Homo sapiens: one gene and its partners. The main gene of each other region encodes a partner of the protein of the gene in region 2 in a complex. Each region holds a gene or a part of one and is shown on either strand. Other genes may lie near its edges. A codon is read from its position in the direction of its gene.

Region 1 (7,221 bases), on a different chromosome or scaffold from region 2:
ACTTGAGGCCAGGAGTTCAAGACCAGCCTGGCCACATGGCCAAACCCCATCTTTACTAAAAATACAAAAAAAAAAAAAAAAAAAAAAGAAAGCCAGGTATGGTGGCGGGTGCCTGGAATCCCAGCTACTCAGAAGGCTGAGGCACAATAATCACTTGAACCTGAGAGGCGGAGGTTGCAATGAGCCGAGATCACACCACTGCACTCCAGCCTGGGAGACAGAGCAAGACTCTGTCTCATAAATTAATTAATTAATTAATTAAAATTGGCCATTCTTCCCACAGCAATTTACAGATTCAATGCTACTCCTATCAAACTACCAAAAACATTCTTCAAAGAACTAGAAAAAACTATTTGAAAATTCATATGGAACCAACAAAGAGCCAGAAAAGCCAAGGCAATCCTAAGCTAAAAGAACAAAGCTGGAGGCAACTTTACCCAACTTCAAACTATTACTTAGGGCTACAATAACCAAAACCGCATGGCACTGGTACAAAAACAGGCACAGAGACCAATGGGACAGAATAGAGAGTCTAGAAATAAAGCCGCACACCTATGACCATCTATTCTTTGACAAAGCTGACAAAACAAGCAGTGAGGAAAAAGAGTCCCTATTCAATAACTGGGGATACTGGCTAGGCTAGCCATATGCAGAAGATTGAAGCTGGACTCCTTTCTTATACCATACACAAAAATTAACTGAAGATGGATTAAAGACAAGGTAAAACCCAAAACTATAAAAATCCTGGAAGACCGGCCGGGCACAGTGGCTCACGCCTATAATGCCAGCACTTTGGGAGGCTGAGGCGGGCGGATCACCTGAGGGTGGGAGTTCGAGACCAGCCTGACCAACATGGAGAAACCTGGTCTCTACTAAAAACACAAAATTAGCTGGGCGTGGTGGCGCATGCCTGTAATCCCAGCTACTAAGGAGGCTGAGGCAGGAGAATCGCTTGAACACGGGAGGCGGAGGTTGCGGTGAGCCGAAGGTTGCGGGGAGCTGAGATTGTGTCATTGCACTCCAGCCTGGGCAATAAGAGCGAAAAAAAAAAAAAGTGGGCAAAGGAGCCGGGCACAGTGGCTCAACGCCTGTAATCCCTGCACTTTGGGAGGCTGAGGCGGGTGGATCACCTGAGCTCAGCAGTTTGAGACTAGCCTGGCCAACATGATGAAACCCCGTCTCTACCAAAAATACAAAAAAGCTGGGCGTGGTGGCGGGCACCTGTAATCCCAGTTACTCAGGAGGCTGAGGCAGGAGAATCACTTGAACCAGGGAGGCGGAGGTTGCAGTGAGCTGAGATGGCGCCACTGTACTCCAACCTGGGCAACAAGAGCAAAACTCCTTCTCAAAGAGAAAAAAAAAAAAAAAAGTGGGCAAAGGACATGAACAGACATCAGACACTTTATTTTTATTTATTTATTTATTTATTTATTTATTTTATTATTATTTTTTTTTTTTTGAGAGGGAGTCTCACTCTGTCGCCCAGGCTAGAGTGCAGTGGCGCCATCTCGGCTCACTGCAACCTCCACCTCCGGGGTTCAAACGATTCTCCCACCTCAGCCTCTGGAGTAGCTGGGACTACAGGCGTCCACCACCACGCCTGGCTAATTTTTGTATTTTTAGTAGAGATGGGGTTTCACCATGTTGGCCAGGCTGGTCAGTAACTCCTGACCTCAGGTGATACACCCACTTCAGCCTTCCAAAGTGCTGGGATTACAGGCCTGAGCCACGCCCCAGCCAGACACTTTTCAAAAGACGATATACATACAGCCAACAAGCCTATTAAAAAAACCTCAATATCACTGATCATTAGAGAAATGCAAATAAATCAAAACCACAACGAGATACCACCTAACACCAGTCAGAATGGCTATTACTAAAAACTAAAAAAATAACAGATGCTGGCAAGGTTGCGAGAAAAGAGAACACTGTTCTATCGTTGGTGCAAGTGTAAATTAGTTCAATCACTGGGAATCACTTGAACCAGGGAGGCGGAGGCTGCAGTGAGCCAGACTGGGCCACTGCACTCCAGTCCGGGAGACAGAGCGAGACCGTCTCAAAAAAAAATTATTCATCGTTTATCTGAAACTCAAATTTCACTGGGCATCCTGTATGTTATCTGGCAATGCTATGCTCCCCCGAGAAAATAAAAAGAAGAAATCTCATAGGTGCCTGTTTCACCCAATCGGTGATTTGTGTTCGTCAACTATTCTGTATTACATTCAGTGATTACACTTAGAAGGAACTCTTGAAACCCTGCAAAAATTTATGTCCTCCTCTTCTAATGTGACTCGTAATAGGTACTCAGCCCAAGCCTGAAACTGACAAAGAGAGCTACCTCACCGGATAAAGCCTTTGTGTCAGACAGCCGTGGGTTTAAATCTTGACTCCACCACTTAACTAGCTGTATGATTTTGGACAAATCACTTAAAATCGCTGAGACTCGGTATCCTGAACCGTAAAATGGAGAGATAATTTACCTTAAGGTGTGGTTGTGAGGTATAAGTGAGATAAACAAAATGACTGATACATAAAAAGCAATCTGTAAATGGTACCTTTGAAGATGATACAGGGAAAGGTAATGAAGTTAGAGACGAGGGAATGGGGAGAGGAAGGGATTAATAATCTATTTTCCTAATAGACGTTATTTTGCAAAGAAAGGAGGGCAGAAAACTATTACGATGAGTCCGAAAAGCAGAACTGTAGCTAAAGACAGACCCGGGCTGCTCTAGAGAAGACGGCGCTAGAACAGAGAAAGGAAGCAGGAATGACCAGTCAATGACCGTCCCCCTGGGGGTAACAGTGGTAACCCGGGACTATCCGCCACTCCAGGGCCCCGGGATGACTCAGGGAGTCCAGCGGGCTCCTTACCTCCGGGGCCAGGGCCGCCTCTCGCCCATGAGCCCCTGGCCCCCACCCCAGGCCCTCCCTGCCTTGGCGCTACACGCGCCCGGAACCCAGCTCTGCCCCTCCTGCCCCGAAGTAGCTCCTCACCACACCATAGTGCTTTCCAACACCATCTTGCCACCTTCCTCCCTCCCGACCGGGTCTCCGGGACGGCCTAACAACAACTCCTCCAATTGGCCCGTCGCTCTTCACCAATCACAGACCTCGGCTTGGCCAGCTGCTTCCGCCTCCGTCCCCCACGTTGCGTTCTGGGAGTTGTAGGTGCCGCCAAACAAATTTGTAGGCGTCTTGAGGGTAGTTGAAGGGAATCGCGGTAACACAAAAAACAGGATCTAGCCTCCACTTTCCCTGCCATTGCAGTTCTCAGTTGGGGTTTCCCGCTGGCCGGATCTCAGGGGAGCTATGGAGGAACCTTTGAAAGTGCTGTGTCGATTCCGGCTTCGGCATTTTAAAAAAGTGTCGGGATCGGCCGAGCGCGGTGGCTCACGCCTGTTAGCCCAGCACTTTGGGAGGCCAAGGCGGGCGGATCACGAGGTCAGGAGTTCGAGACCAGCCTGGCCAGCATGGTGAAACCCTGTCTCTACTAAAAATACAAAAAATTAGCCGGGCATGGTGGCGCACGCCTGTAATCCCCGCTACTCGGGAGGCTGAGGCAGGAGAATTACTTGAACCCGGGAGGCAGAGATTGCAGTGAGCCGAGATCGCGCCACTGCACTCCAGCCTGGGGGACAGAGTGAGACTCCGTCTCAAAAAAAGAAAAAAAAAAGTGTCGGGATCGCTAATGACTTTCTACAGCCCTCAGTTCCCTGTAGAATTTTAATTCAACAAGCCCTTATACCCTTCAATTGAATTTATTTGTATATTTATCTCCTCCCTCGTTTAACTAAGGGTGGGCAACGTGCCTTTTTTTTTTTTTTTTTTTTTTTTTTTTTTTTTTTTTTTGAGACGGAGGAGTCTCGCTCTTTCACCCAGGCTAGAGTGCAGTGGCTCGATCTCGGCTCACTGCAACCTCCACCTCCTGGGTTCCAGGGATTCTCCTGCCTCAGCCTCCCAGGTAGCTGGGACTACAGGGGCATTCCACCATGCCCGGCTAATTTTGTATTTTTAGTAGAGACGAGGTTTCACCATGTTGGCCAGGCTGGTCTCGATTTCCTGACCTCAGATGATCCACCCACCTCAGCTTCCCAAAGTGCTGGGATTACAGGCGTGAGCCACCACACCTGGCCGGCAACGTGTCTTAATCTTTACAATTCCCTAAGCCCAGTACAGAGCCCGGAAAAGATTTGACAACTCAATTATATTAACTAATCTGCCAAAGAACAAACCACTAAACCGTTTTGGTTAATCAAAAATTACATTCAAGGCCTGATGCAATGGCTTAGGTTTTATAATCCCAGCGTTTTGGGAGGCCCAGGCAGGAGGATCAACTCAGGCTAGGAGTCTGAGACCAGCCTGGACAACACAGCCAGACTCCGTCTCTACAAAGTTTTATTGTTTGAGACAGGGTGTCGCTCTGTTGCCCAGATTGGAGTGCAGTGGCCTGATCTCGGCTCACTGCAATCTCCACCTCCCGGGTTCAAGCCATCCTCCTGCCTCAGCCTCCTGAGTAGCTGGGGCTATAGGTGCATGCCACCAAGCCCAGCTAATTTGTTTTTAATTTTTTGATGTGGGAGGATGGCTTGAGCGCATGAGTTCGAGACCAGCGTAGGCAACATAGCCAGACCCCATCTCTGAAAAAAAAAAAGTCTCAAAGTGTTGGGATTACAGGCGTGAGCCATCACATCAGCTGGATATTTGATATTAAGCAATTTTTTTAGGCATGATAATAGTGTTAAAGTTATCACCCTTATAAAAGTAGGCTTTATTAAGGGTTATATGTTGTATTCATAGATAAAAAAAGTATATGAAGTTTGGGATTTAACTTAATCCTCTGGAAGAAACAAATAGTTTTGTTTTTTGAGACAGGGTCTCAAAGTAAAACAAAAGAGACAAGGTCTCACTGGGCTGGAGTGCAGCAGTGGTGCAATCATACATAGCTCACTGCAACCTCTAACTCCTGGCCTCCCATCTCAGCCTCCGAAAACTGGGATTACAGGCTTGAGCCACTGCACCCGGCCACGCTGGTCTTATTTATGTTGATAATTATTGAGGCTGGGTTATGTGTACATAGTGGTTCACCATACTACTCTACTTTTGGTTTGGAAATTCCCATAATGAAAAAAAGAAGGCCAGCTGGGCACGGTGGCTCACGCCTGTAATCCCAGCACTGAGAGGCCGAGGTGGGCAGATCACTTGAGGTTGGGAGTCCGAGACCAGCCTGGATACCCCCGTCGCTACAAAAAAATACAAAAATTAGCTGATTGTGATGGTGCCAGCCTGTAGTCCCAGCTACTTGAGAGACTGAGGTAGGAAAGTCGCCTGAGCCCAGAAAGTCAAGGCTAGAGTGAGCTGAGATTGCTCTGGGTAACAGAGCAAGACTAAAAAAGAAAACCAAGGCTGGGAAATCTCAGCACTTTGGGAGGCCGAGGCGGACGGATCATAAGTTCAGGAGATCGAGAACATCTTGGCCAACATGGTGAAATCCCATCCTACTAAAGATACAAAAATTAGCCGGGCATTGTGGTGGGTGCCTATAGTCCCAGCTACTCTGGAGGCTGAGGCAGGAGAATCACTTGAATCCGGGAGGAAAAGGTTGCAGTGAGCCGAGATCGTGCTATTGTACTCCAACCTGCGCGACAAGAGTGAAACTCCGTCTCAAAAAAAGAAAAACAAAACTAATAAAGAATGAGACTTCATCTCTGAATACATCTCAGAATAGCTGAGATTGACATGCTTAAGGGTAAAATATCAGACCAGATGACGATTTCCAACTTTATTATCCTATGATTTTAATTTCTCTTTTAGTTAGAAGTTTTACACTAATAGACCCTACTTGTATCTGAATATAAATTAGAGCATATAGCTAGAGAATAAGCACTAGTCGCTGCTCACCGCTAGAGGGACCCTCTGATCATAAGAGGATTATCTACACCACCCATTCAGTAGTTTTGAGTACACTCTGAGTGACAAGGTCAGGGATGCAGAACATTTATGCCTAAAACATGTTAACCTCCAATTCCTATTAGGGAAAAAAGTTTTCTCCTTATCCAGACAAAAGGAGGACTGGCTGGGGCTGTGGGAAAATCAAATTCAAAACTTTGAGAATCTGGGCCGAATGCAGTGGCTCACGCCTGTAATCCCAGCACTTTGGGAGGCCGAGGTGAGCGGATCACTTGAGGCTAGGAGTTTGAGACCAGCCTGGCCAACATGGTGAAATCTGTCTCAAAAAAAAAAAAAAAAAAAAGAAAGAAAGAAAGAAAAAGAAAAGAAAAATGAAAAGAAACTTTGAGAATCCCCCATTCCTCTTCCAATCCAAGTACTTGCTTTTTCTTTCTTCTTTTTTTTTTTTTTTTTTTTTTTGAGATGGAGTGTCACTCTGTTGCCAGGGTGGAGTGCAATGAATGGTGCAATCTCAGCTCACTGCAACCTCTGCCTCCTGGGTTCAAGCGATTCTCCTGTCTCAGCCTCCCGAGTAGCTGGGATTACAGGCGCCCGCCACCATGCCCGGTTAATTTTTTTTTTTTTTTTTTTTTTTTGAGAAGGAGTTTCACTCTTGCTGCCCAGGCTGGAGTGCAAGGGCTCGATCTTGGCTCACCGCAACCTCTGCCTCTCAGGTTCAAGCGATTGTCTTGCCTCAGCATCCCAAGTAGCTGGGATTACAGGCGTGCACCCACCACGCCCAGCTAATTTTTTGTATTTTTAGTAAAGATGGGTTTTCTCCATGTTGGTCATGCTGGTTCTCCCTGTTGGTCGAACTCCCAACCTCAGATGATCTGCTCGCCTCGTCATCCCAAAGTGCCGGGATTACGAGCGTGAGCCACCGCGCCTGGCCTAATTTTTGTATTTTTAGTAGAGATGGTGTTTCGCATTGTTGGCCAGGCTGCTCTTGAACTCCTGGCCTCAAGTGATCCACCCATCTTGGCCTCCCAAAGTGCTGGGATTACAGGTGTGAGCCACTGGACTTGGCCAATCCTCTGTTTAATTCTGATGGAACTTTGTTAGTCTCTCAATTATTTTGTATCACATCCTATTGGGGCAAAAAATATTTCAGGGTTCCCAATATTGCCTCTAACTATACTTATTCCAATATTCTCATCATGATCTCTTCCTTGTTCTCAAAAACAGACCATTCTCATGCATCTAGGTCCTTGTGCTGAAGTGAAACATTCTCTTAACACTTCTTTCGCACGTAACTGCTAATTTTTCCCCCTTTTA
Region 2 (7,597 bases):
GTCATATACAGTCAATCTGCAAATGTTGACACAATGTTACACTGTAAATTTTCTGTACAATTAAATGTATACTTAGAGATACCAGGATAAACATTTCTACTATATTTTAACTGAACTTGCCTAGCCAACATTTTCACTGAGAAGTTTATCAAAGATGCTGTAAGATTCTACAAAATTGTGAGACATAACTAGCTCCAGAAACATTTCTTGTATTCTTTCTCATTTTGGTTACACATATTACACTCAGATTCTACTGTAATATTTTTAGATGTACAGTGCCAATTGTGCTTACTGTACTGTATACAAATATAGCAAAAAAGATCAATGGTATAAATCTTACAGCATTTTGCTAGCAAAAATACATGCCAAAGTCACAATAAGCAATATCGTACCACAAATTAGAGAGCTTCAAATAATTTGCTTCTGTTTTTAATATCTTCATTCTACATTAAATTACTATCATAGGCTAATGTTTAAAAATGCAAATAAATTGGACATCTGTAGGACAACACTTGTTCACCCAACTGTGAAGGTTGATACCTGTTTCCAAAAATCACAATAAATGCAGAATAAAGAGAAGTGTTTGCATGCAACACTTTTGAGTGAAACAGCATTGATTCCCACCACTCAAAACGGCTAAGGAAGGAAACTAAAGGAAATAAGGAAGGAAGGAAACAAAGAGGGAGGGAGTGGGGAGACAAGAGGAAGGGAAGGTAGGAAAAATAAGCAAAGGAGAAAGGGAGTGAGGGAAGTAGGAGGGAGGGACTCCATCTTAAAATGCATCATATTAGACTTACAACTAGACAGATTTAAAAGAATCAAAATGAAAGTAAAGAACGATTTTGTGTGTGTGTTTAAAGATTTAAGAGCCATTATCAAAAATAAGATACATTTTTTTTCCAGGTACAGAAATGTGATTACGATGGCTGGGAGCCCAGCAGCCTTTCAATGGCTGCATTGATGTCGCCTCCTGTTGCTATTAGGGCCTGCAAGTTTGCTTCACGGTTTAAGAACCCCATTGCGTTGAGCTGTTCCAGTTGTTGCTGAAATCTGACTTCTGGATTCGGCAGCTGTGGAGCATTTGCTCCAGCCAGGGCCTGCACCATTTGCTGAATGAACTGCTGGTTGGGTCCAGATTCTGATGTAGGACTCGTGGTTTCACTAGGTGCAGCGCTGGACACAGTAGGCCCCGTGGGGCCACCAGAGCCGGTGGAGCCAGGGGGGGCTGCAGGGCCAGTGGGTCCTATGGGCCCAATGGGGCCTATGGGGGTAAAAGGGACTATAGGGCCTATGGGGCCTATGGGGGTGACTGGGCCTACAGGGCCTATAGCGGTTCCCAGCACCCCCACCCCCACACCTGGAGTGAAGCTCGGAATCAGGCCAGGTGCTTCAGTGGCTAATGTCTGTAGCCCCTGCTGGATCTGCATTAAAGCCTGCATTGCTCTTGGGTTTGACATGGCTGATAGTGTGTCTGGATTCTGCATCTGCTGCAGGAAGGCTGGGAGCTGTGGCCGCATCTGCTCCTGCAGCTGAGGATTTGCAGTAAACAGCGGGCTATTCAGCATCATCTGTGCAGCCAAATCTGGATTCTGGCTCAGCGACTGCATCATGCTTCTCATGTAGGGCGCCGACAGCATATTCTGAATCAGCTGGGGGTTTTCAGTTATCTGTTGCAGCAGGCTCTGCATGCCTGGGGTACTAAAGATGCTGGCGACATAATTAGCGGCAGCAACGGTGTTCCCAGTAGCATTGCTGGAACTATTGCCAGACCCACTACCAGTGCTTGTGGTCGTGCTGGTAGTTGCAGAACTCTGGGTAGCTGGCGGTGGTGCCCATGGATTGGGTAGTGGATCGCGATTTTCTGTGCGGGAAGGCTGCGTACCTTCCCCAGAGGAGGAACTACTCCCCACGGAGGCAAATGGATTACCCCCAAACTGCTCTTGTGCGGCATTCAGCATCGGCTCTTGAATGTCAGTGTACATGCGCCGTAAAGCATTATAGCCACCTGGGATGCTTTCTAGATTGCTAAGAGCCAGGTCTTGATTTCTCATCATCTCTTGCATCATGGCTGGATTCCTGGCAATTTCGAGTGTCTGCCTCATTATGTCTGGGTTGTTGAGCAGGTGACTGATTTCTGGGTTTCTCTGAATCAATTGCTGCATCTGTGGATTAGCCATAATGAGCTGCCTCATCAGATCGGGATTCGAAAGCATGCTCTGAACAAAGGGATTTTCCATTATTTGGATCATCATCTCAGGGCTGGCCATAAGCTGCTGCTGCATCTGGCTCTGGAGCTCAGAGAAGTTGGTCGAGCTCAAGCCCAGGCTGCTAAGGCCTGCAAGTCCTCCCAGGCTCCCCAACCCAAACGGGTTGCTATTTGTGGAAATAGGTGTGGAGTTACTCCTGGGAGTCGACGCCGAGGTAGTGTTAGTTCCCGCGGCATTGCTAGGCTGCGTGGACTGGCCCTGAGGTCGGTTCTGGCTTTTGATGACAAGGTGAACAGTCAGCCCATCATGGATGCCATGCTGGATCAAGGTATCTTGATCTTTTAAGATTTTTCCGGCAAAAATCAGCACTAGCTGATCGGTTTGGGATTTGAAGCGTTTCGAAATCGCTTCCTTAAACTGCTGAACCGAGCTGTTCTCGGGCACCGCGAACTCCTCTTTCTCTTTGGGAGTCTTCACCGTGACTTTGATGATTTTAGGCTCAGCCGGGGCAGCAGCCGAGCCTTGGGCCGCAGCAGGGCCGCGGGAGGGGCGCGGGGGGCCGCTGCTCTCGCCATTCTCAGCCATGGCGGCCGCGGTGACGCAGGCGGGCAGGGAAGGCGCGGGCGGGCGAAAGAGAGAGCGCGAGGGAAGGAGGAAGGAAGGAGGCACCGCCGCAGCGGGCTGGGCCGGGTCAGGCGGGGAGCGCGGAGCACGGTACCTCTGTGATGAAGACTGCGGTTCCCTGGTCCTCCGGTGGAGAAAGGCCTGGGCGTAGGCCGCTGGCTGAGGTCTCCGCGCTCCGGTCTCTGGGCCTCCTCCGCCGCCGCCTTGTGATCCGACCGCGCGCACTCCCAGCAACTCTGGCAGCCGCTCCGCCTGCTGATCCCCGCCCCTTCCCCTCCCCCAGTTCCGCGCTCGCCTCCCCGCCCCCTCTGCTGACGCGGCGCCAGGCCTAGATTGATAGATTTGGCTCGGTCAAAATTAAAAACTTCTGCACTGAAAAGAAAAAAGGGAGAGAGAGAAACAAAGGGAGAGAGAGAAGAGAACAGAACAGTACAGAGCAGGCGAGGCAGAGAGGGTGAGACGGAGAGAAGGAGGCGGTAGAGAGTCAGCTTCTGTAAACGACATTAAAAGACCAATGGAGAATGTATATTAGCAATCTGTAAGGCAGTAAAAGGGTGAAAGCCTGAATCGAACAGATCCCACGTATAAGACGAAAAATGAATAATAAAGAACTCTGACAAAGCAAAAAGAAAAGAGGAACACCTCCAGTAGGGGAAGGGAAGAAGACAGAGCAGGAGCGTGCATTTTACAAAAGGAGTGCAAATGGCCAATAGACATTAAAAAAGGATGATTAATTTCACTACTAATAAAAAGAAATCAAGTTAAAACAATAAAATTCTACTTTTGGCTTATCATATTGGCAGGGAAAAAAATAATGGTAAACCTTCTTGTTGACAGGGACCCTAAAAAATGCCCTCTCAGGCTAGCTGAAGTGTGAATTGTTACAACCATAGGGCAATTTGAAAATATATATCAGCATTTTGAATGTTTCCACCTTTATTTAGAAATGCCTAACCTAGACACTTCGCCTAATAATCGGATGAGGATGCAAAAATATTTATGTATAAAATGTATATACATTGTAGCATTTTAAAATGTTATTTAAATATATTAACTATCTGTTTACATGAGATTAGTTGAGCACATTATCATATTACCATACAAGAAAATATAGAGTGTCTTTAAAGGTATACATGAAATAAACTGTAGTTATAGGGAAATCACAGAGTATTTTCAATTATGCCTTTGTATATTTCTGTACAGTTACAAACTATATAAGAATATATGTTCCAATATCAAAAATACAATAAATATATTTTTATTTTAAAAGCAATTTTTGAACAGTTTGTTGTATATGTAAACCGTATGTGTAAAAAAATCTGGAAGGCTATGCACAAATAAGTTAATGGCTGTTAGTACTGTTTGCTGAAATTATGAATAATTCTTATTTTCTATTTTCATAAGATTTTGAATTTTCTGATGATTTTTGTAAGTATGCACTACAGAAAGGTATTTTGGGGAAGAGTATGGGTAGAAATTGACAGGCACATAATAGTAGTGGCAAACATTGACATATTTACCTAATTTAATTACAGATTAAGTAAGAGCAATAAAGATGTAGCAATGCTGAGAAAGAGAACTTGAAAAATAGAAGAAATAATTTCAAATTTATCTATATATTTCTAACTCTAGGTTAAACCACACAGAAAATTCTTCCCCAACCCCCACCCTCTACCAAGCATCCACCAAAGCACCACTGCTTTCAACATTTAACAGCATTTCAAAGTCATTAGGTCACAAATACTTTAATAAATCTGAAGATAAGAAAAATATATATATACAGGTATGTTATATCCATCGATGGAGAAATGGAAGAATTAATATTATTTTACCTCTCTATTTTATTAATATAATTAATAAAATACAGAGGTAAAAAGATGACTAGCTTTAAATATGTTAATATGTATAGATCTAAAAAGCCAAATTAATTAGTATTAGGTTGATGCAAAAGTAATTGCGGTTTTTGCCATTGAAAGTAACGAATTGTTACTATTATACAATGGTTTTTGCCATTGAAAGTAATAGCAAAAACCGCAATTACTTTTGCACCAACCTAATACATGCCAAACAGCACTCTAATACATTCTTATGTATATTTGAAATATTCTTTTAGAAATATACCAAACTTGCACCCATGAGGAAGAGGAAATGGAATAGGATACAGGATAGTGAGTAAAGGGAACTTAAATATGTAAAAATGCTTTTTATCTTTAAAATGAAAGCAAATATGATAAAATATCAGCAATAGTTAATTATGGGTGGTGAGAATATGAAAATATTATAGGTAATCTTTAATTTCCATAGAATAAAGCTAGATATTAATAATCAAAGTATGAACAAAAAACCAACCATTTGATTATTAAAACATAACTGAATACTTTTGGGGCAAAGTGCAATGTTCTTATTAGAATAAATTTACAAAAATAATGATAATGAGAGCATATACAGCAATACTAATGCTAGGATTTTTCTACGTGTGATCTGAGAACATTGTTAAGAATGCATGTTTCTAGGCCCCACGCCAAACCTACTGAAATAAGTGGTGCACTGGAAGCTGCATTTGTATCAAGGTCCAGTTTAATATTATTTCATTTATTAAGTACTATGTGGATGAACTCAGAGTCAAATTTATACATTCAAAGACTTAAAATATCAAACAACAGATTGAAAATAAGGGAAGTAGGCATTCGAATAAAGAAGGCAACGGAAAATAAAAGGAGGGAAGTGAGGTGACAGCTATAGAATGATAAAAGCAAATATTAATGAATTAACAAACAGAAAAAATAAAATTTGTTAAGTAAATCTAAGAAAGTATTTGAAGAATCAAGTCAAATACACAAATCTTTATTAATTGGCGATTGTCTTGGCTGACAATTCCCTCACCAAAATACACATCAGAGGGGCAAAACCATACTCACCCTCTTGAGGAAACCTTCCAGAAACACACTTCTTTGCATTATCTTTCTTTACCTTAAAAATTATGTGATTGTGATTTTTTGACATTTTACTTCAAAATATATTACTTTTAATGTTTTAAGTTACAATGAAATAAAATTAACATTTTAGTAGTAGAACATACGTATCCTCATTAGGGAAAAGGACAGCATTAATTAGCTGAAACAAAGAAAGCACCAAGAAAAATATACGAACTAGTATTGTGTGAATACATTTAGTCACAGATGAAGGAGATTTTTTTTTTAATAAAAAAGAAATACGTTGTAAAAAGATTGGCTAATGACAAAAAAAAAAAAAAAAAGCCCTGATGACTACATTTCTAGGAAGATAGATATGGCCAAAATATATTCCAGAAGTAGAAGATCTTAACAAACCATGTAAGAGACATGTAAGAAAATGAACAAGGCCAGGTGCAGTGTTTCATGCCTGTAATCCCAACACTTTGGGAGGCCAAGTCAGGCGTATTCCTTGAGCCCAGGTTCAAGAACAGCCTGGGTAACATGGCGGGACCCCATCTCTACAATTTTTTTTTTTTTAAACTAGCTGAGCTTGATGGCTAGTGCCTATAATCCAAGCTACATGGGAGGATGAGGTGGGAGGATCGCTTGGGCCTGGGAGGTGAAAGTTGCAGTAAGCCTTGATCATGCCACCACACTTCAGCCTGGGTTACAAGAAAGTAAATAACTAGTTATTCTAAAAATCACCTTTCTTGTTCGTAGTGGCTGCTGAGCTTACGTTTTTTACCCTCTCTCTTTACCAAATCCCACTGAAGTGACAGAAATGAGAAAAATAATAACCCCCGAACAGTAAGCCTTGATCATGCCACCACACTCCAGCCTGGGTTACAAGAAAGTAAATAACTAGTTATTTTAAAAATCAGCTTTCTTGTTCATAGTGGCTGCTGAGCTTACGTTTTTTACCCTCTCTCTTTACCAAATCCCACTGCAGTGACAGGAATGAGAAAAATAACAACCTCATAACAGTTTTGAAAAGGTGGAAAGAGTGCCATCAATGAACTTTTAAGTTAAATATCAAAATAAATTCTAGATTAAAAAATGAAATCATAAAATTTGCAGAAATATATTAGGGCAAATATTTACATAAGCTAGGCATGATGGTAACCTGATGAAAATGACAAAGAAAAATCATGGATGGAAAAAATTAATAGATTTCATTAAATAAGAATTTTAAACTATATATCAACAATGTAATAAAAATTAAGCAGTTAAAGACAAACAAAAAAATTGCAACATATATAACGCATGAGATCTATCCATGACATACAGACACTTCTTACAAATTTTTAAAAAATGAACGCTCCAAGGGAAAAATAGGCAAAGGATGTTAACCAGTATCTTACAAAAGAAAAAAAAAGTCAGAATGAAAAGAAAAAGGAAAGAAGGAAGAAAGGGAGAAAAGGAAGAAAAAATATGTTATCTCCTTTAAATAAAAAAATACAAATTAAAGTAACTGTGAAATACTTTTTGTCTATAAAATTTAAAAGACCAATATAATATCCAATCTAGACATAGTCAATAAAGACTGCCTAAGTTCAAATCCTGGTTCTATTACCTCTGATTGTAAACTGCATGACTTTGGCAAATAACTTAACTTTTCTGTACTTCAGTATTCTTCATTTATAAAATGATGGACTATTTTGATAATCAAATAAATTAACGTATTTTAAGCACCTACAAGTTTCCTGCTCATAGTATCCACTATAGAAGTATTATTATCATTAGTAGTAGTAGTACAGGAAAGAGGTAACTCATAATCTGCTGGGAATTAAGTTACTTAGTAAGTACAGCTTA
Region 3 (7,747 bases), on a different chromosome or scaffold from region 2:
GGACCCGGCCCAGCAGGTGAGGGGACGGCAGTGGCGCCTCCTGAGCACGATGCTCTGCGCCCTGTCCCCATCCGCCGCAATCCCGGGTGTGCCCTGTCCCCCTCCGCCCATTTCACAAATGGGGAGCCTAGAGCTCCGAAGGCACTTAGCTGCTGCCAGACCAAGCCCTCTCACCCTCCTGCCCTCTGGGGTGCGGTTCTTTACACACCCGTCTCCTTCCTTCAACCAGTGGAAGGCAGCGAACTGGCCCGCTCAGCACACCGCGGCCCAGGGCCACGGCAGGCGCTCACAATCGAGCACACGCGTGTGCACACACATGTGCACAGATCAGTGTCAGAAGCATCGACCTGCGAGCTCACAGAGCTGGGAGCAGAGCACCCACGCACACCCCGAATGGCTATGGAAGCTGCAGGGCGCCAGGGACACTGGGAGTCCCTGCTCTCATGGCAAAGCAGGGACGGGGGACTTAAAAGCCACCAACAGGAAAATCGGGGAAAAAAGGGAGATGGTGGTAACAGTTGGACACTATTTCTTGGCAAAACCGTGGAAAAACACGTTCTACACCAGCAGGTGGCAAATTGTGGCCGCCATCTGTGTTTGCAAATAAAGTTTAACTGGAGTTTGGCTATGCCTGTTCATTTTCTCAGGCCGCTGCACACTACTTGCACAGGTGACCAGCAACACAGACCATGTGCTCCACAGAGACCTCAGCCAGGGCCACCCCTGCTCTTGAAAGTGCCAAGGGGGGTGGGGTGGGGACAGCAGCTCCACCTCTGGCAGAGAGCATGGCCTTCTCTCTCCACACTGCAAACGCATGCACACGCTTCCTGACCACAGGCCCGCCACCAGTTTTCACCTACAGATGATACTGGCTTATGGAAAATGATCTGTGTACCGGGAAATTCTTTGCAACACTGCCTGTAACAGCACAAAAAACGGCAACAAGCTCAATGGTCACTGACAGATGGCAGAATGAGCAGCGGCCTCTAGACCCAAAAGACGCTCTGCAGCTGTGGGTAAGAGAAACCCTGGGCACTGACACCCCTGGCCTCCAGGACACACTGCCAGGGAAGGGGCAGGACTGTGGAAAGTGTGAGCAGGATGCTTCGTTTCTGTGAGCACCAGCAGGGAAGCCACACAGGGGCCTCTGCCTCTGCTGTGGGGGCCTCAGTGACCCACGGCAAGGGGCAGAGAGAGGGCACTGGGCATCGTTAGAACCAGGGCCAGCATGTCTGTCTGCCTGGAAATTTCACACCGCAATCGGTTGCCCGCAGCCCAGCCTGGAGCCTCCGTACTCTGGGAGAGGACCTCGGCCCCAGGTAGCATGCACCGCAGCCCTGAGGTGGCATCTCAGGCCGTGTGGCCGGGTGTGGCCGGCGCCTGCTGGTTTATAAAAGCCAATTGCACCACACTGTAAGCAAGTTCCTAACCGAATCGCAGGGCAACAAAAAGGCACAACCCCAAGGCCTGCCCCATACCTGCATCCAGAAGAAAAGCCGCTTGGACCCTGCCTTGAACTTCAGCACGTAGACCCTCCCGCTGGGGCACTGCGGCACCCGCTTGAACTCACAGTCGTCAGGGAAGATGATCAAGTCCTGGCAAGCCAGGGGAAGAGAGAGTCAGTGGCGCAGATGGCATCACTGTGCCCAGTCTCAGGAGAGCGTACTGAGCCCTGGGTCTAACCGGGTGGGGTGCGCAAGGGGCAGCTAAGCCGCCAGACCCCTCGCTGGCAGGGTCTCCACAAGGCAGAGAAGCCAGGGTCAGAGACAGCCCATGAAAGGCAAGGCCGGGGGAGAGAGCAGGGAAAGGGGCCTTTCAGATGGCAACGGGGTTTCTGAGACGTGCTGGAAACAACATTCCCAGAGTAGTTAAAAAGTCAACGCTGAACTGCTCTCAAATGTAACAAAGAACAACTAAGAGTTTGAAAAACAAAGAAGACTGAGTGAAGCCGCCAGGCACAGAGCTCCAGGCTCTCCAGGGCCACACCTCCAACCCCAGGCACCTCACACGGACAGTTCAAGGCCAGGCACAGAGCTCCGGGCTCTCCAGGGCCACACCTCCAACCCAGGCACCTCACACGGACAGTTCAAGATACACAGTGGCCGAGATGCCCCTGTCACCGCGGAAACCAGGACGACCCATCAGCAGGGCAGTCGATGACGGCCCCACGAGCGGTCCCCAGATGCGGCCAAGCCCCCACCGCGAACTCCAAAGCGAGGACTCCGAGGGCCCGAGAAGTCGCCTGTCCTGCTGCTGCGGCTCAGGGACACTCACGTCTTCCACGTTCCCGGACGTCCTGTCCTTCCAGCAGAAGTGAATAAGCGAGTCGTCCGTCTGCTGAATGTACACCAGCCCTTTCCGCTTATCCGGAGTCACGGTGGTCCCCTTCAGGGACATCTTTCCCGCCCGAAACTCCACCAAGTACTTGTTGGAGGCGCCCCGAGAGCCTGGCACCAGGCTTGGAAAGAGCGCGCCTGAGGTCGTCATCCTGAAAGCGCGGAGAGGACGCTGAGACGCGGCGGTCACTGTCGCCTGCGGTCCGGCAAGCTCCCGCCCCCTGGGGTGTTTGCGAGCAGGGGGCCTGCGCCCAGAGCTGCCTAAGGCAGACTCAGACACGCCGGGCTGCCTTTCCGCGTTTGCCCCGCTCACGACGATCGCACCGCCCGCACTCGGCGCTGGGCCGGGGCAGCCCCGCCAAGCCTAGTGGGGCCGGCCCTAGGCTTGACGCCGTCTCCGCGGGGCACCAGCCTCGACGCGCCACCCCGGCGACCCGCTCCGCGGGGCAGACCCGCCCGAGCTCCCGCCGAGCCCCACGTTCAGAGCCGCAGGCGGAACCGGGGCGGCGCCCGAGACCCCAGAACCCCCGCCCGGCCCGGCCCCCGCAGGCCCCACCCGCCGCGCCGGCCACCTTCTCGTCTTGGCTGCCCCCGCCCCATCCTTGGTCCAGCAGCCCCTGCCCCCGCCTCCGGTCGCCCCCGGCCGCCCCAGGCCCGGCGACTCCCGCACCTGCCTCGCGCCCACACTCGTTCGAGAGGCGCCGTCCGGGCTCGCTCTTCCTCCTCGGCGCCTGCCGGGCCCCGCCGGAAACCCGCGTTCGGCCCGCCCCGCCTGCCGCTCTCGCCGCCGATTGAGCCCCGTAAGCCGCGCAGCCGGCTCTAACCTGCCAACGATTGGCGAGGGCGACCGTCCATCGCACTCGCTCCTCCCCGGTCCGCCCCCGCGCCGGCGGCTCTTTTCCGGCGGAAGCGCGGGCCGCAGGGCGCTTGGACCAGAGCGGCCCCTATTGTTGCTGTGTCATAGGGGAGCGGCGGCGGCCCCTAGAGGCGGCGCCAGGGACCACAGGCGGGTTTCAGAGGGGCGCTGGGGAACTGCTCAGGTGGGGCCGAGCCCACCCCTCGGCGTCGCCCGCCCGGGCGGGCAGAGCTGTCACTCGTGTGGCTGAGCCAGGGGTTAGGCGGAGGCCGAGGAGTGCGGTCCGGCTGTGGGCGGCGGGCACCAGGGCTACGCATAGAAGTGACCATGGGTTCAGCGCTTTGGGGACCCAGGCGGGAGCTGGAGTCCACGCGTCCGGGAGAGCAGGGGTCCGGGAGGGTAGAGCGAGGGTGAGAACCGTGATATGGTCTCAGCTGTATACATCTAGTCCCGCAGGGGTCCGGGAGGGCAGGGGTCAGGAAGGGGTGGGTCCGGGAGGAGAGGGGTCCCGAGAGGGGAGGGGCTCCTGGAGGGGAGGGATCTGGGAGGGGTGAGTCCGGGAGGGGAGGGGTTCCCGGAGGGGAGGGGGCCCGGGAGGGGAGAGGGTCCCGGAGGGGAGGGATCTGGGAGGGGTGAGTCCGGGAGGGAGGAGTCAGGGAAGGCCTGAGTCCCAGACGGGTAGGGTCCTGGAAGGGAGGGGTCCTGGAGGGCAGGGGCTCACCCTCTGGACGCCTGGATGGGAAAGGCCACAGGGTAAAAAGGCGGCAGTCGCCCGCCAGTGTTGTGTAACTTTGAGTCACTTTGACACAAACTAAAGCGAAGACAACAGATAGTGTTTGTGGCGCCCCAGCCGGCTGCTGAAGGGACACGTTCTTTGGGATTTGCCTACAGCGACGCCAGGCGGGGGCTCTTAGAGGGCTCAGGCGCGGTGGCTCACGCCTGTAAACCCAGAACTTTGGGAGGCCGAGGCGGGCGGATTACTTGAGGCCAGGAGTTCAAGACCAGCCTGGGCAACATGGTGAATGAAACCCCGACTCTACTAAAAATGCAAAAATTAGCCAGGTATGCTGGCACATGCCTGTAATTCCATCTACTCAGGAGGCTGATGCACGAGAATCGCCTGAACCCGGGAGGTGGAGGTTGCAGTGAGCCGAGATTGCACCACTGCACTCCAGCCTGGGCGACAGAGGAAGACTCCTTCTCAAAAAAAAAAAATAATAATAATAATAGTAATAAAATAGAGAGGTCAGGCGCTTCGTGAGAACCCTGAGGTGCAGTGGCCTCTGCACCCCAGTTAAGCAAGACTAGATGTTTGCAGCTGAGACTGTGCCAGGGTCCTCAGGTTCTCCTTTGCCCATCGCTCACTTCCTTCTTTCCTTCAGATACTTCACTCCCTTCGGGCGCTCCCCGGGGTCACCGTGTGCTTGGTGGCTCACCCTCAGAGTGGATGCACAGCTGTGTGCTTACGTGCTCTCTGAGGTCTTTAGGTGTGTGTTTTCACTCACCCTTGTTGGGAGATGCGTTGGTGTTGATGCTGGCAGCTCCAGTCCTTTCATTCTGCAGGGAGCCTACTACTCAGGCCTCCATTGTCTCGGTGGCAGAGCTTGTGCCAGTTATGTTTAGTTGCCAGCTTTTGACTGTCATAATGCTTCCATTTGAAACATTGATTGAGCTAAAGATTCACGTTTTTTGTTTTGGAAAATGTAGCCACTTTTCATTTTAAAATGTGTGTTAACAGGTAGTAAGTTTGTTATTGTTATTTTTATGTAGCTAAATAATTTTAAATGTCCTCTTAATTCCTAGTATGGTAAATGTCAATAGATAAAGCTCACATAAACAAAAGCTCTTTGGGGTCCTGTATAATTTTTAAGAATTTAAACGGTTCCAGAAGCTAAAGGGCTTGAGAGGGGCTAACACAAAGCTCTGTGGCCCGCTGGTGACAGGTGCGTCACTGATACTGCAGCCCCATCCTCGTGCCCTCGTGTAAAACAGGGAAAAGGTGGAAATGAGAAAACCCAGCCTGGCTTTCCCGGCAAGAAGGTGGCAAGCGTCACTTGTTTATGTCACAGACAGTAAAGCAGAAGCCCCAGGGTCCGCAGGGGCCAAGTGTGCAGAGGCCAACGCAGTGGCCAAGAGGACCCTGGATTTACCATTTCCTCCACTTCCTGGAGGCCCTGTGGCCTGGGATGGCTCAAACAACCCCAGAACTCTTTACCCACACTTCAAGCGAAACTCCCACATTCCTATGAGCATGCTGCAGTGAGGAAACGAGCCGCAGCCAGGCAGGCTTTGCAGAGGCCACTGTGGGTGCCCGCTGCCAGCCCACGGGCTCTATGCGTGTGTGGGGTATGGCACCTGGAGCACCCAGCAGCCCAGGACTCCAGCTGTGGCCACAGAGTGGGTGGGGGGGCACACGCTGCTTTGTGTCAGGAATCTCGGACTTGAAGCACACACAAGGTCAGAAGGGCTGTGTGACATGTGCAGCTGTCCCTATCTTCTAATTGGTCGCTGATGGCAGTTGGTGGGACGTCTGCAAAATGCCCGCAGCATCTAGAGGAGCAGCCTCACCGGGACACGCGCATTCAGCTAAAGGATTTGGACTAAGAGATCCCCCAAAAGAGATTTCTATTCATCCTGTTTAGCAAAAAAAAAACAACCCCAGACTTGCATGATGGCTCACACCTGCAATCCCAGCACTTTGGGAGGCCGAGCTGAGAGGGTCCCTTGAAGCCCAGGAGTTCCAAGACCAGCTTAATCAAGACAGTGAGACCCTGTCTTTAGAAAAAGACAAATTAAAAAAGAGCCAGCCATGGCGGTGCATGCCTGTAGTCTCAGCTACTTGGGAGGCTGAGGTGAAGGTCAAGGCTGGCGGTGAGCCGTGATGGCACCACTGCACTGCAGCCTGGGTGACAGAGCGAGACCCTGTCTCAAAAAAGCCCCAAACTGTAAAGAAAGCACACCCTGATGCTCTCCACGTGCTGCAGGCTCCTCGGGTGAAAGGTGGGCGGCAGAGCCCAGGCTGCGCCTCCACGTGGGCAGAAGACACCTCCGGATGTTTCACCAAAGAGGTCACAGGCAGCAAAGGCACCATGGCAAGCTGCTCAACACCATTATTCATGAGGGAAATGCAAATGAAATACACCTGCTGGAACTTAGCAAACGATGGAAGGTGCCAGGCAAAGTTGGAAACACCAATGGCACGGCTACTTCGGAAAAGCATTTGGCAGGGGTAGGGTTTTTTAAACTTTTTTTTTTTTTTTTTTTTTTTTGAGATGGAATCTCACTCTATCCCATAGGCTGGAGTGCAGTGGCTTGATCTCAGCTCATTGCAGCCCCCGCCTCCTGAGTTCAAGCAGTTCTCCTACCTCAGCCTCCTGAGTAGCTGGGATTACAGGCATGTGTCACCAGACCCGGTTAATTTTTGTATTTTTATTAGAGACAGGGTTTCACCATGTGGGCCAGGTTGGTCTCGAACTCCTGAGCTTGAGCGATCCACCCGCCTCAACCTCCCAAAGGCTGGGATTACAGGTGTGAGCCACTGCACCTTGTGGGTTTTTTTTTTTTTTAACATTTTAAAAATAGACAAGTCACAACTGAGTGGAAGGCAGAGAGTTCTGGTCCCCCTGGGTGTTCGGTGAGCTACGCCGCCACCGGGTCAGCGCCCAGAGCCCGCCATTCGCGTCGAGGTCCACGTCGGTCCATCTGTGCTGCCACCACTGACCAGGCAGTTTACAAAGAAGCGAAACGTACTTTCTCACAGTTCTGCAGGTCCGGAAGTCAGCGTCAGTGGGGCGGCAGGCCTGGTTGTCTGGTGAGCGCTGTCCTCACCTGGCGTGGCACTGATGCTCTGTGGGGCAGACCAGGCAGTGTGGGAGGAGCCTCTGGCTCCGGGCTCAGGCAATGGTGGTGGAGCCCCACAGCCAAACCCCTGGAGCATTCCGAGAGCATGGACGTCTTGTGGACCGTGTGTCCCTCTGCCCCAGCCACACTGACCACTGGGACGACTGAGTCTGCTCAGCTTACGCTCCTGAAAAGCACGAAGGTGCTGGGGCAACTTACGGCAGAAGGCAGGCAGCTGAAACCTGGGGCACCGGGCCCTTCGCTGCTTCTAGCAGTAGCGTCCCCCCGCCAGGGGAGGGGGGTCCATCAGAGCCTCCTGCTGCTTGGAGAACCTGGGTGCTCCACCCATCACATGTGCCGCCCGACAGGTGTCACGAGTGTCCCCCAGCCCCCTCTCCACAGGGCAGTTTTTGGAAATGAGCCATTTGCTTGGCCAATCCTCAGGAACACGCGGTCCAAACTTCTGATAACCAGGCATGAGGACTCATCCTTAGCAGATTTGTAGCCCTTTTCAAAATGGCCAGAGCGGCTGAGATGGTGAAAAATTGCTCAGTGTAAAACAAAGGTCACCTGCTGCCCATCTTCAGAGAATCTTCATTCAAATCTTAGAGGTTAACATTTATTTTCACAGATGTGTACACAGCCCTCTGAAAAATCTGAGGATGACTGTGTTAATGCAGTTTGGCACTGACAGTTGTTAAATATTATAAAATAA

Evidence for each region.
Region 1: the proteins of UBQLN2 (region 2) and PSMD4 are in contact, whole or in part, in an NMR structure (PDB 6MUN), measured with the Homo sapiens proteins. Residues at the interface, in NP_038472.2 of Homo sapiens: Lys38 (codon at 2,681), Ile75 (codon at 2,570), Phe76 (codon at 2,567), Ala77 (codon at 2,564), Gly78 (codon at 2,561), Lys79 (codon at 2,558), Ile80 (codon at 2,555), Asp94 (codon at 2,513), Gly95 (codon at 2,510), Leu96 (codon at 2,507), Thr97 (codon at 2,504), His99 (codon at 2,498), Val101 (codon at 2,492), Lys103 (codon at 2,486); in NP_002801.1 of Homo sapiens: Asp213, Glu215, Leu216, Ala219, Leu220, Val222, Ser223, Met224, Glu226, Gln227, Arg230.
Region 3: the proteins of UBQLN2 (region 2) and ADRM1 are in contact, whole or in part, in an NMR structure (PDB 2NBV), measured with the Homo sapiens proteins. Residues at the interface, in NP_038472.2 of Homo sapiens: Lys38 (codon at 2,681), Ile75 (codon at 2,570), Phe76 (codon at 2,567), Ala77 (codon at 2,564), Gly78 (codon at 2,561), Lys79 (codon at 2,558), Ile80 (codon at 2,555), Leu96 (codon at 2,507), Thr97 (codon at 2,504), His99 (codon at 2,498), Val101 (codon at 2,492), Lys103 (codon at 2,486); in NP_008933.2 of Homo sapiens: Asp54 (codon at 2,328), Ser55 (codon at 2,325), Leu56 (codon at 2,322), Asp72 (codon at 1,595), Leu73 (codon at 1,592), Ile74 (codon at 1,589), Phe76 (codon at 1,583), Pro77 (codon at 1,580), Asp78 (codon at 1,577), Asp79 (codon at 1,574), Phe98 (codon at 1,517), Lys99 (codon at 1,514), Ala100 (codon at 1,511), Gly101 (codon at 1,508), Lys103 (codon at 1,502).

Annotation. Positions count from the first base shown.
Region 1 is NC_000001.11:151,250,582-151,257,802, reverse strand, and holds the start of PSMD4 (26S proteasome non-ATPase regulatory subunit 4), read right to left. Parts: upstream 3,070-7,221; 5' UTR 3,021-3,069; coding exon 2,995-3,020; intron 1-2,994. UniProt on the Homo sapiens protein: Component of the 26S proteasome, a multiprotein complex involved in the ATP-dependent degradation of ubiquitinated proteins.
Region 2 is NC_000023.11:56,559,069-56,566,665, reverse strand, and holds the start of UBQLN2 (ubiquilin-2), read right to left. Parts: upstream 3,040-7,597; 5' UTR 2,793-3,039; coding exon 918-2,792; 3' UTR 1-917. UniProt on the Homo sapiens protein: Plays an important role in the regulation of different protein degradation mechanisms and pathways including ubiquitin-proteasome system (UPS), autophagy and the endoplasmic reticulum-associated protein degradation (ERAD) pathway.
Region 3 is NC_000020.11:62,298,309-62,306,055, reverse strand, and holds the start of ADRM1 (proteasomal ubiquitin receptor ADRM1), read right to left. Parts: upstream 3,060-7,747; 5' UTR 3,007-3,059; intron 2,489-3,006; 5' UTR 2,488-2,488; coding exon 2,275-2,487; intron 1,596-2,274; coding exon 1,479-1,595; intron 1-1,478. UniProt on the Homo sapiens protein: Component of the 26S proteasome, a multiprotein complex involved in the ATP-dependent degradation of ubiquitinated proteins.